Linked DNA regions of Homo sapiens. The protein of the gene in region 2 purifies or fractionates together with the protein of the main gene of each other region. This does not show direct contact. Each region holds a gene or a part of one and is shown on either strand. Other genes may lie near its edges.

The links.
Region 1: the proteins of KIF26B (region 2) and ZC3H13 purify together in Homo sapiens (affinity purification with mass spectrometry; one large-scale study listed by BioGRID and IntAct). This does not show direct contact.
Region 3: the proteins of KIF26B (region 2) and ANKLE2 purify together in Homo sapiens (affinity purification with mass spectrometry; one large-scale study listed by BioGRID and IntAct). This does not show direct contact.

What each region holds. Positions count from the first base shown.
Region 1 is NC_000013.11:45,979,660-45,983,314, reverse strand, and holds part of ZC3H13 (zinc finger CCCH domain-containing protein 13), read left to right. Parts: intron 1-3,310; coding exon 3,311-3,502; intron 3,503-3,655. UniProt on the Homo sapiens protein: Associated component of the WMM complex, a complex that mediates N6-methyladenosine (m6A) methylation of RNAs, a modification that plays a role in the efficiency of mRNA splicing and RNA processing.
Region 2 is NC_000001.11:245,706,824-245,709,952, reverse strand, and holds the end of KIF26B (kinesin-like protein KIF26B), read right to left. Parts: 3' UTR 521-3,129; downstream 1-520. UniProt on the Homo sapiens protein: Essential for embryonic kidney development. Plays an important role in the compact adhesion between mesenchymal cells adjacent to the ureteric buds, possibly by interacting with MYH10.
Region 3 is NC_000012.12:132,755,323-132,758,977, forward strand, and holds part of ANKLE2 (ankyrin repeat and LEM domain-containing protein 2), read right to left. Parts: intron 1-3,655. UniProt on the Homo sapiens protein: Involved in mitotic nuclear envelope reassembly by promoting dephosphorylation of BAF/BANF1 during mitotic exit.

The DNA.
Region 1 (3,655 bases), on a different chromosome or scaffold from region 2:
GATACTTTTTATTGTGTTAAGGATTAAGTTCTCTCCCCCCATTTTAGTTGTCAGAAAATACTCTGTTGAAAGTCAGTTCTTTGGGATATGTATTTGTTAACTCTTATTTTGTGGCTCAGTGGTCTGTTTTTATAAGTGTTCTGCATATGCTTTCAAAGGAGTTGCATTTGTAATGGTTGAATGCAAAATGTTTCTCTAAGATAAAGTTTGTTTTAACTACACTTTCAAATCTACATGTAATTTTTCTTAGTCTGTTTGTTCTGTCATTACAGAGAGGTGAGTTCAGTCTTCCACTGTGATTGTGGAATTTGTAGATTTGTTGATTTCTACTTATAGTTTGATCATTTTTTTATTTGAATATTTGAAGCTTTGCTATTAGGTACACGTAAATTGAGTTATTTCTTTCTTTATTCATTATAGAATGACTGTTTATGCCAGGTTCAGGTTGAGCATCCCTAATCTGAAATGCTCCAAAATCTAAAACTTTTTAATGTAATTTTTTTTGTTTTTGTTTTTTGTTTTTTCTATAGCCACTAGCAACTGATAAAATCCAGACTTTTTGAGAGCTGACATAACATTCAGAGGAAATGCTTATTGGAGCATTTTGGATTTCCAATTTTTCAGATTAGGGATGCTGAACCAATATAATGCAAATATTCCAAAATCCAAAACACCTGTGGTCCCAAGCATTTCAGATAAAGGGCATTCAGCCTGTATTTTTCTTGAAGATTGTTTTGCTGGCAGCTGTCTTTTGGTTAGTATTTGTTTGATATATCTTTTTCCATCCTTTCAGGCTTAATTTTTTTTTAAATGTAACTCTAAACAACATATAGTTTTAGACAGATTAAATCTCCTCATTGTATCTTCTTTCATTCTTAACTTTCAAATTTTTCATCTCTTTATCTGTTTCGCCTCTAGGTCATATTCTCAGGCTTACCTTCTAGTTTACCAATTTTTTCTTAGCTGCATCTAATCTGATGGTTAATCCATTCTTTCCTAGATGTTATATGTAGCCTTTTTGTAGTCTGTAAAAATGTTTTAAATTTTTTCTTCCTGGTCTTTAATTATTAAAATATTTTTCACAGCTATTTTGATTATTAAAATACCCGTAGAATCATGCTGTAATTCTTTTAGGTCTCAAAAGCCTGTTACATTTGTATTCTTTGTGTTTTTGTTTGTTTTTTAAATCTTGGGGAAGTGCCTTTTGATTCTGTCTTTGGGTGGGTTAGTTTGTCATATGTTCTTTTTTTTCTTTTTTATTTATTTGTTTATTTATTTATTTATTATTTTATTATTATTATACTTTAAGTTTTAGGGTACATGTGCACAATGTGCAGGTTAGTTACATATGTATACATGTGTCATGCTGGTGTGCTGCACCCATTAACTCGTCATTTAGCATTAGGTATATCTCCTAATGCTATCCCTCCCCCCTCCCTCCACCCCACAACAGTCCCCAGAGTGTGATGTTCCCCTTCCTGTGTCCATGTGTTCTCATTGTTCAATTCCCACCTATGAGTGAGAATATGCAGTGTTTGATTTTTTGTTCTTGCGATAGTTTACTGAGAATGATGCATCACTGGCCATCAGAGAAATGCAAATCAAAACCACAATGAGATGCCATCTCACACCAGTCAGAATGGCAATCATTAAAAAGTCAGGAAACAACAGGTGCTGGAGAGGATGTGGAGAAATAGGAACACTTTTACACTGTTGGTGGGACTGTAAACTAGTTCAACCCTTGTGGAAGTCAGTGTGGCAATTCCTCAGGGATCTAGAACTAGAAATACCATTTGACCCAGCCATCCCATTACTGGGTATATACCCAAAGGACTATAAATCATGCTGCTATAAAGACACATGCACACGTATGTTTATTGCGGCACTATTCACAATAGCAAAGACTTGGAACCAACCCAAATGTCCAACAGTGATAGACTGGATTAAGAAAATGTGGTACATATACACCATGGAATACTATGCAGCCATAAAAAATGATGAGTTCATGTCCTTTGTAGGGACATGGATGAAATTGGAAATCATCATATGTTCTTTTAAGTTTGGAGTGAACTCATCTTTGTCAAAGATTTATCCATGGTAATTCTATGAGGTTGAGGGCAGGGCCCTCAGAGTTTCTGTCTTTGTTTTTGCCAGATATTCCTAAATTATCACAGCCCCAGTACTGTTTCTCTACTCCTAACCCTCACTGCTCAAAAAAAGCTTTTTTTTAAATTTCATTTTGTTTTGAAGTAATTAGGAATTCACAGGAGATTGCAAATAAATGTACAGGGAAACTTTGTTTATCCTTACCCCAACTTCTCCAGTGTTAACATCTAACATCTTATCTATAGCATAGTATCAAAACCAAACAATTGACATTGGTACAATCCATAGAGTTTATTCACATTTCACCAGTATACATGCACTTGGGTGTATGTCTGTATGTAGCTTTTTGTAGTTTTATCATATGTGTAGCCCATTTCCATAGTCAAGATACTCATCTATAACATCCTAAGATTCCTTTTTATTACCCCTTTATAGCCACAACCCTCCCCTGGCCCCTGGCCCCAACCCCTGGCAACCTCTTATGTGTCCCTTGTTTTGTAATTGTCTCGTAAATGGAATAATGCTATATGTATCCTGTTGAGATTGGCTTTTTCACTCAGCATAATTTTTTCTTGGGGTTCATCCAAGTTGTTGCATATATCGGTCATTCATTTTTATTGCCGAATAGTATTCCATGGCATGCATGTGCCACAGTTTGTTTAACTGTTCATCCATTGAAAGACATTAGTGTACTTTGCAGGTTTTGGCTGTTATCAACAAAGCCACTGTGAACATTTGTTTCCCACATCTGTTAATGAAAATTTTCACATACAGTTTAATGTTGTCATTAACCTTGGTGTTCTATGTTGGAATGTTTTCACTGTAAACTGTATTTAAGCAATAATACGTACCCATTTTTTTCTTTCATTATTTTTATATATCTGTGAATTAAATATGAAGAAATAGTTTTTATTTTTTGTTTTTTTTGGGGGGACAGGTTAATTTTAATGAATCTTATTATTTTATGATTTTATCATATGACTTTTATATAGGTAGGGAAAACTGGGACTTCGTCTACTCAGGTCAGTCATTGGACACCTTGGTTGTTCTGATTCATTGCTTGATACTCTTTTCAGGAGTGATTACCACACTTTGGAATATTAAATATATATATTAGTGATGTTTAGGAGGAAAGATTATGACTGATGAAATTTGTTGAATAAAGTGTATGTGGTAAACATTTGTGTGTCTATCCTTTGTTTAGGAAGTCGAGGCTCAAGAGGTTCTCAAATTGATAGTCACAGTAGTAATAGCAACTATCATGACAGCTGGGAAACTCGAAGTAGCTATCCTGAAAGAGATAGATATCCTGAAAGAGACAACAGAGATCAAGCAAGGGATTCTTCCTTTGAGAGAAGACATGGAGAGCGAGACCGTCGTGACAACAGAGAGAGAGGTTTGTCAAACAGAATTTTATTAAATAGTGAACAATATCAATTGGGCGAATTGTTTTTTCAAACAGTTACCAATTTACTTTTTAATATAAAATATACTTTAAGGCTTGTGCTCGATGACACATTTGAAACTATTATATATACTCATATAATCT
Region 2 (3,129 bases):
CTGTCCTCAAGGGAAGGGGCTACCCTGAGAGACCTTTTTCTAGTTCTGATCTGTTTTTGCCTTCTTGCCTGAATGTGCCCAGTTATAACTGAGACCAAGCACCAGTGTAACAGAGGCCCATGCATCCAGGCCCGAGCAATCTACAGTGACTGCAAATTCCCTTATTTTGTGTAAGCCCCAGAAACACTGGACTGAGGGAGGGCAACAGAAAATATCCCATTATCAACACAAGCTTCTCCACACTTTCCCCAGCGTCTGGCTCTCAGGTGTGCAGAACAAGTCCAGGGACTCTGGGACTTAGCTGACACCTCTACTCACTCCTGGCTGAGCTGCTGAACTTGTTGGGGGCCAGCTCCACAGGGCGACTAGACAGGCCTCATCCCATGAGGTCCTGAGAGGCCTGGGGGCTAGACTTGGGCCAAGGTGTTGCTGCCGTGAGAAGCACCCACCCCTAGCTCTTGAATTGCTTTCCCCCGAGGTACAGAAGGAGAAGCTGGATAGAGGAATTCACAACTCTGGGTAGAATAAAAGTGAACATTTAATGCCACCATAGTTTGATTTTTTTTTAAACACCAGATTCTTTTTTGACAACATTTTACACCTCATATGCCACAAAAAGTCAGAGATCGTAGCCAGCAAACAATGTCTTTACACTGGAAAATGCCACACAGCTTAATGGATTCATGTCACCAGTTTGTGAGAACTATAACTCTTTTTTTCTGGACTGTTCTCCAGGGAGCCTGCTCATATTTATCATAATCAAGCCAACACCTAACGTTTATATAGCTTGCAAAGGCCCATGCACAAAACTAGCCTGCCAAGGGGCTGCTGGGACCTGCCCAAGTACAGAAGAGTTGAATTTCTGACTTTAACAAATGAGTTTTATTGAAGCATTTTAACAGCAAACACTTGTGAACTAATAATGTTTTGAATGGCCCCAGTCTTCCATCTGGTTAAACAGTGGATTTCAGACAGTAACATTAAGCACTACCATTGAATTGTAAAACAAGATTTTATGAACTTATTTAGGAATTCACTGTTTCTGGCACAATAAATGCACCTGGGCAGACCTTGTCTCCACTTTTCAAATGGGCCCATTTCTACAGATAAGCATATTTATATACACATACATACATTACTAATCATGGAATTAGAGATCCAGAGCTTGAAGGAACCACAAAGATCATCTAGCACAATGTCTTCATTTTATAGGTTAGAAAACTGAGTTCTGGAGGAGTTAGGTAATATATCACGGACGGGACGACTGGCAAAGCTGGAATTAGAACTCAGGTTTTCTGTCCTATGGAATATATCACGGACAGGATGACTGGCAAAGCTGGAATTAGAACTCAGGTTTTCTGTCCTATGGAATATATCACGGACGGGACGACTGGCAAAGCTGGAATTAGAACTCAGGTTTTCTGTCCTATGGCCTTTCACCATGTCAGGTACCTCCTGTACACACACATCCGTGTATGTACACACACCTTAGAGGAATGGTATGTGTTCATGTCTACACATACCTGGTGCAATATGATCTGATGGGAAGAATCCAATAAGCTGGACTCAAGTCCCTGTTTTGCTATAAAACCACTCTGTGAACTCGGGCCAGTCAATGACTAGACTTCAGTTTCTTCATCTGTAAATGATTACCCCCAGCTCCTAGACAGACCTTTAATTTCTTCAAAGCACTTCCCATCACTTATACCACTTTCTCTTGATGCTCTCCCAGAAGGGCAGCTGTTCTGACCCCCAGTCTTCCACTCGGGAACCTGAGGCCCAGCAAAGCGAAGAGGCTCGCCCAAGGTTGCACAGCTAGTAACAACCAGGCCTGGCGGCCCATGTCCTTGCTCCTAGCTCAAGGCCTAGCCCCTCCCTGCCTCTCGGGACCCAGTGAGGGGACAAAATGCCTTAAGATTGTAAGACTCACTAAAGTACTTTGGTTTTTCCAGAGGAAAAAAACAGGTACTATATATATCCAAGCTAAGGAACTCCAATTGCTTTCCCAAACCCTCTTCAGTAGCACTAGGGGTTGGATGGGAGTCTTAGGGAAATGTAGGGAACTAATACTATCAGCACTTTCCTCAGGAATTGAATGTTGAACCATTAGGAAGAGGCTGAGTCCTCTTCCGTGCAAGCCGGTGGGCGTGGATTTCCAAGCCCATTCTCATCAAATTCAAAACGAAGGGATCTTTCCCATTTGGCTGCTTACTACAGAAACAGCTTAGATTTTGAACTAAGCCCTGTGCATTGAGGATTGGACCCTAATCCCTATTCTCTTGCTTTATCTGTCCTCTCCCCATCCCCCAGCCCATGTTTCCACTAACAGACTTTGCTTGAGTGAGAAAAACATGGAAAAAAATAGCCACAGACAGATCCAGCAAATCTCCACCTCGATGCACGGCACGTGGATAGCATTTCCAACCGTGATGCATAATAAGTAAATGAGAGAACACGAGCAATGCTGTAAAGCAACATCCTGAGTTCACAAATAAATTAGAACTTCTTCATAAATCAAATATTACAATGTGGGCTGTTAGCAGGATAGGGAATGAAAGAAGGAACCTTTTTTAGTGTTGAAGGTAATTTCTAGGTACGCATGGAATAGATGTGTGAGTGTGGTATTTCAGTACTCGCCTCCACACGTGTGGACCTTGGGAACAACTATGCTTAGAGATTAAGGTTTGTATGCAATGAAGGCTTGATACTGCCCCAAGCCGCACTGTGTCCAGTGTTATGACATTGCTGCAGGTTCTGGGTAGGGCCACCCAAAAGCAGAATGTGTTTGTTTAGGGAGGGATAAATTAGTTTCCAGGAATTTTCAGAAAAAATTTTTTTGAGAAGATGAGCTTAAATGACAGTATCTTCTCCCGGATTAGAATTACGCTTGCATTATGATGGAAATAATGAACAGGTTGTAATTTTAAAATGTGTCATTTTGTCAGGAAGATTACTAAGTGATGCACTTTATAAGCTGTTACCCACCAATGTTGACAGATACTTTCTGGAGGTGGAAAAAGAGGTATCAGAATCCAAAGAAACACTGCCCCCACCAAAATTTGAGACCCATTTACTTGCATCAGTGACACTGAACACCCAGCTTTGTTTCATTTGGTGCAGAGAAAAGTG
Region 3 (3,655 bases), on a different chromosome or scaffold from region 2:
CATCTGAGGTCAGGAGTTCGAGACCAGCCCGGCCAACATGGTGAAACCACGTCTCTACTGAAAATACAAAAAATTAGCCGGGTGTGGTGGCGGATGCCTGTAATCCCAGCTACTTGGGAGGCTGAGGCTGGAGAATCGCTTGAACCCAGGAGGCGGAGGCTGCAATTAGCCGAGATCACACCCCTGCACTCCAGCTTAGACAACAAGAGCGAAACTCCAGCTCAAAAAAAAAAAAAGAATTTTTCTTTTTTTTTTCGAGATGGTGTCTCCCTCTGTCGCACAGGCTGGAGTGCAGTGGTGCTATCGCAGCTCACTGCAACCTCTACCTCCTGAGTTCAAGTGATTCTCCAGCCTCAGCCTCCCAAGTAGCTGGGACTACAGGCGCCTGGAATCACACCTAGCTAATTTTTGTATTTTTAGGAGAGACGGGGTTTCACCATGTTGGCCAGGTTGGTCTTGCACTCCCGACCTCAGGTGATCCACCTGCCTTGGCCTCCCAAAGTGTTTGGATTACAGGCGTGAGCCTTTTTTCTTTTTGAGACGGAGTCTCGCTCTGTCACCAGGCAGGCTGGAGTGCAGTGGTGCGATCTCAGCTCACTGCAACCTCTGCCTCCTGGGTTCAAGCGGTTCTCCTGCCTCAAGCCTCCCGAGTAGCTGGGATTACAGGCGTGCACCACCACGCCCAGCTAATTTTGTACTTTTAGTAGAGACGGGGTTTCTCCATGTTGGTCAGGCTGGTCTTGAACTCCCAACCTCCCAAAGTGCTGGGATTACAGGCATAAGCCACCATGCCCAGCCCGTTGTATTCTTTGGGAGGCAGGCAGATCACCTGAGGTCGGGAGTTCGAGACCAGCCTGGCCAACATGGTGAAACCCTGTCTCTACTAAAAATACAAAAATTAGCCGGGCGTGGTGGTACATGCCTGTAACCCCAGCTACTCGGGAGGCTGAGGCAAGAGAATTGCTTGAACCCAGTAGGTGGAGGTTGCAGTGAGCCGAAATCACGCCACTGCACTCCAGCCTAGGGGACAAGAGCAAGACCTTGTTTCAAAAAAAAAAAATTACCCGAGCATAGTAGTGCACACCTACAGCCCCAGCTACTCAGGGGGCTGAGGCAGGAGGATCACTTGAGCCTGGGAGGTGGATGCCACCACGAGCTGAGATGGCAACCCTGCACTCCAGCCTGGGTGACAGAATCAGACCCTGTCTCAACAACAACAACAAAAAAAAAGATGGCGGGGGGGAGTAATACATCTGAATTTAAGTTTCTACAGGGTTCTGACTTTTAAAAACATGTTCGTGATTTACATACTCAAATAAGTAAAGCCGGGTGCGGTGGCTCACGCCTGTAATCGCAGCACTTTGGGAGACCGAGGTGGGTGGATCACGAGGTCAGCAGTTCGAGACCAGCCTGGCCAAGATGGTGAAACCCCATCTCTACTAAAAAAAAAATACAAAAATTAGACAGGCGCAGTGGCGGGCACCTGTAATCCCAGCTACTCGGGAACCTGAGGCAGGAGACTCGCTGGAACCCAGGAGGCAGAGGTCACAGTGAGCCGAGATCGCACCACTACACTCCAGCCTGGGCAACAGAGCGAGACTCCACCTCAATAAAACAACAACAACAAAAAAAACAAAAAAAAAAGAAATAAGTAAATAAACAAAAAGATGGGGGAGACACCCACATGGAATACTAGCCAGAAGAAATGCACCTAACTGTATTACAAGTGAGTAACACAGGGGAAGCTAACCTACGTAACTTTGGAAAACAGTGAGTGACTAGGTGCTCTAAGGAGAAAGACAAAAAGGACTGTGCACCATTACCGTGTGAACAGGCTCTAGGCAGTAGATGTTTTCACAATGGTATAGGTTAACACACCTAAAGCTATTTTCTGTGGACTCTAGGGCAAAGCAAATAATTGGAATACACGGTGGCTGATGAGAGCCAGGACTCTCAATGACAGAAAGGAAAGTGGGAGTGAGAACAGGGTTTCAGCAAACGATTCCTGTAAAGGGCGAGAGAGTAAGCATCTCAGACTCTATGAGCCAAAGGCCACGTGAGTGCTCAGAACAGCCACAGGCCGCGTGTGGCGGCTCACACCTGTCACCCCAGCGCTTGGGGAGGCCGAGGCGGGAAGATCACTTGAGCCCAGGAGTTCAAGACCAGCCTGGGTAACACAGCGACACCCTTTCTACAAAAACTTTAAAAATTATCTGATGGCTGGGCGCGGTGACTCATGCCTGTAATCCCAGCACTTTGGGAGGCCGAGGCAGGTGGATCATGAGGTCAGGAGATTGAGACTATCCTGGCAAACACGGTGAAACCCTGTCTCTACTAAAAATACTAAAAAATTAGCCGGCCATGGTGGCGGGCGCCTGTAGTCCCAGCTACTCAGGAGGCTGAGGCAGGAGAATGGTGTGAACCCAGGGGGCAGAACTTGCAGTGAGCAGAGATGGCGGCACTGCACTCCAGCCTGGGCGACAGAGCGAGACTCCGTCTCAAAAAAAAAAAATTAGCTGAGTGTGGTGACGTGCACCTGTGGTTCCAACTACTTGGGGGGCTGAGGAAGGAGGATAAATTAAGCCTAAGAGTTTGAGGATGCAGTGAGCCCTGTTTGTGCCACTGCACTCCAACCTGGGCAACAGAGCAAGACCCCGTCTCCAAAAAAAAAAAAAAAAAGAACAGCCACAGATATACATAAACAAAAGGGTATGGTTGTATTCCAATAAAACTTTACTAAGGAAAATAGGTGGGGGCCAGTTTGGACCACAGTTTACTGACTCTTGCATTAGAATAAAGCCAGGGAGCCGGACACGGTGGCTCATGCTGGTAATCCCAGCACTTTGGGAGGCCAAGGTGCATGGATCATTTGAGGTCAGGTGTTTGAGACCAGCCTGGCCAACATGATGAAACCAGGTGTCTACTAAAAACACAAAAATTAGCCAGGCATGGTGGCATGCACCTGTCATCCCAGCTACTCAGCAGGCTAGGTGGGAGAATCGCTTGAACTGGGCAGGCAGAGGTTGCAGTGAGTCTCCAGCCTGGACAACAGAGTGAGACTCCACCTAAAAAAAAAAGAATAAACCCGCGGACGTCGCATTGAAATTGGAAGTATCAGTATGATCACAAGGTCTTTGACAGATCGATGGGTAAAGATGTGAGAAACAGCTAGGTCTGAACACTGGGTTATAATGTTCCATTAACAATTTTTTTTTTTTTGAGATGGAGTCTTGCTCTGTCGCCCAGGCTGGAGTGCAGTGGCACGATCTCTGCTCACCGCAACCTCCACCTCCTGGGTTCAAGCAATTCTGCTGCCTCAGCCTCCCGAGTAGCTGGGATTACAGGTACCTGCCACCACGCCCCGCTATTTTTTTGTATTTTTAGTGGAGACTGCCTCACCATGTTGGCCAGGCTGATCTTGAACTCCTGACCTTGTGATCCACCTGCCTCGGCCTCCCAAAGTGCTGGGATTACAGGCATGAGCCACCGCAACCGGCCAAGTACACAACTTTTGAGACTGGCTTTTCCTATTCAGCATAATGCCCTTGAGATCCACCCACGTGGCAGAGTGGATCGCTGCGGAGTGGCACCCCGGGGCACCCACGTGGCAGAGTGGATCACGCAGTGTGGCACCCCGGGGCACCCACGTGGCAGA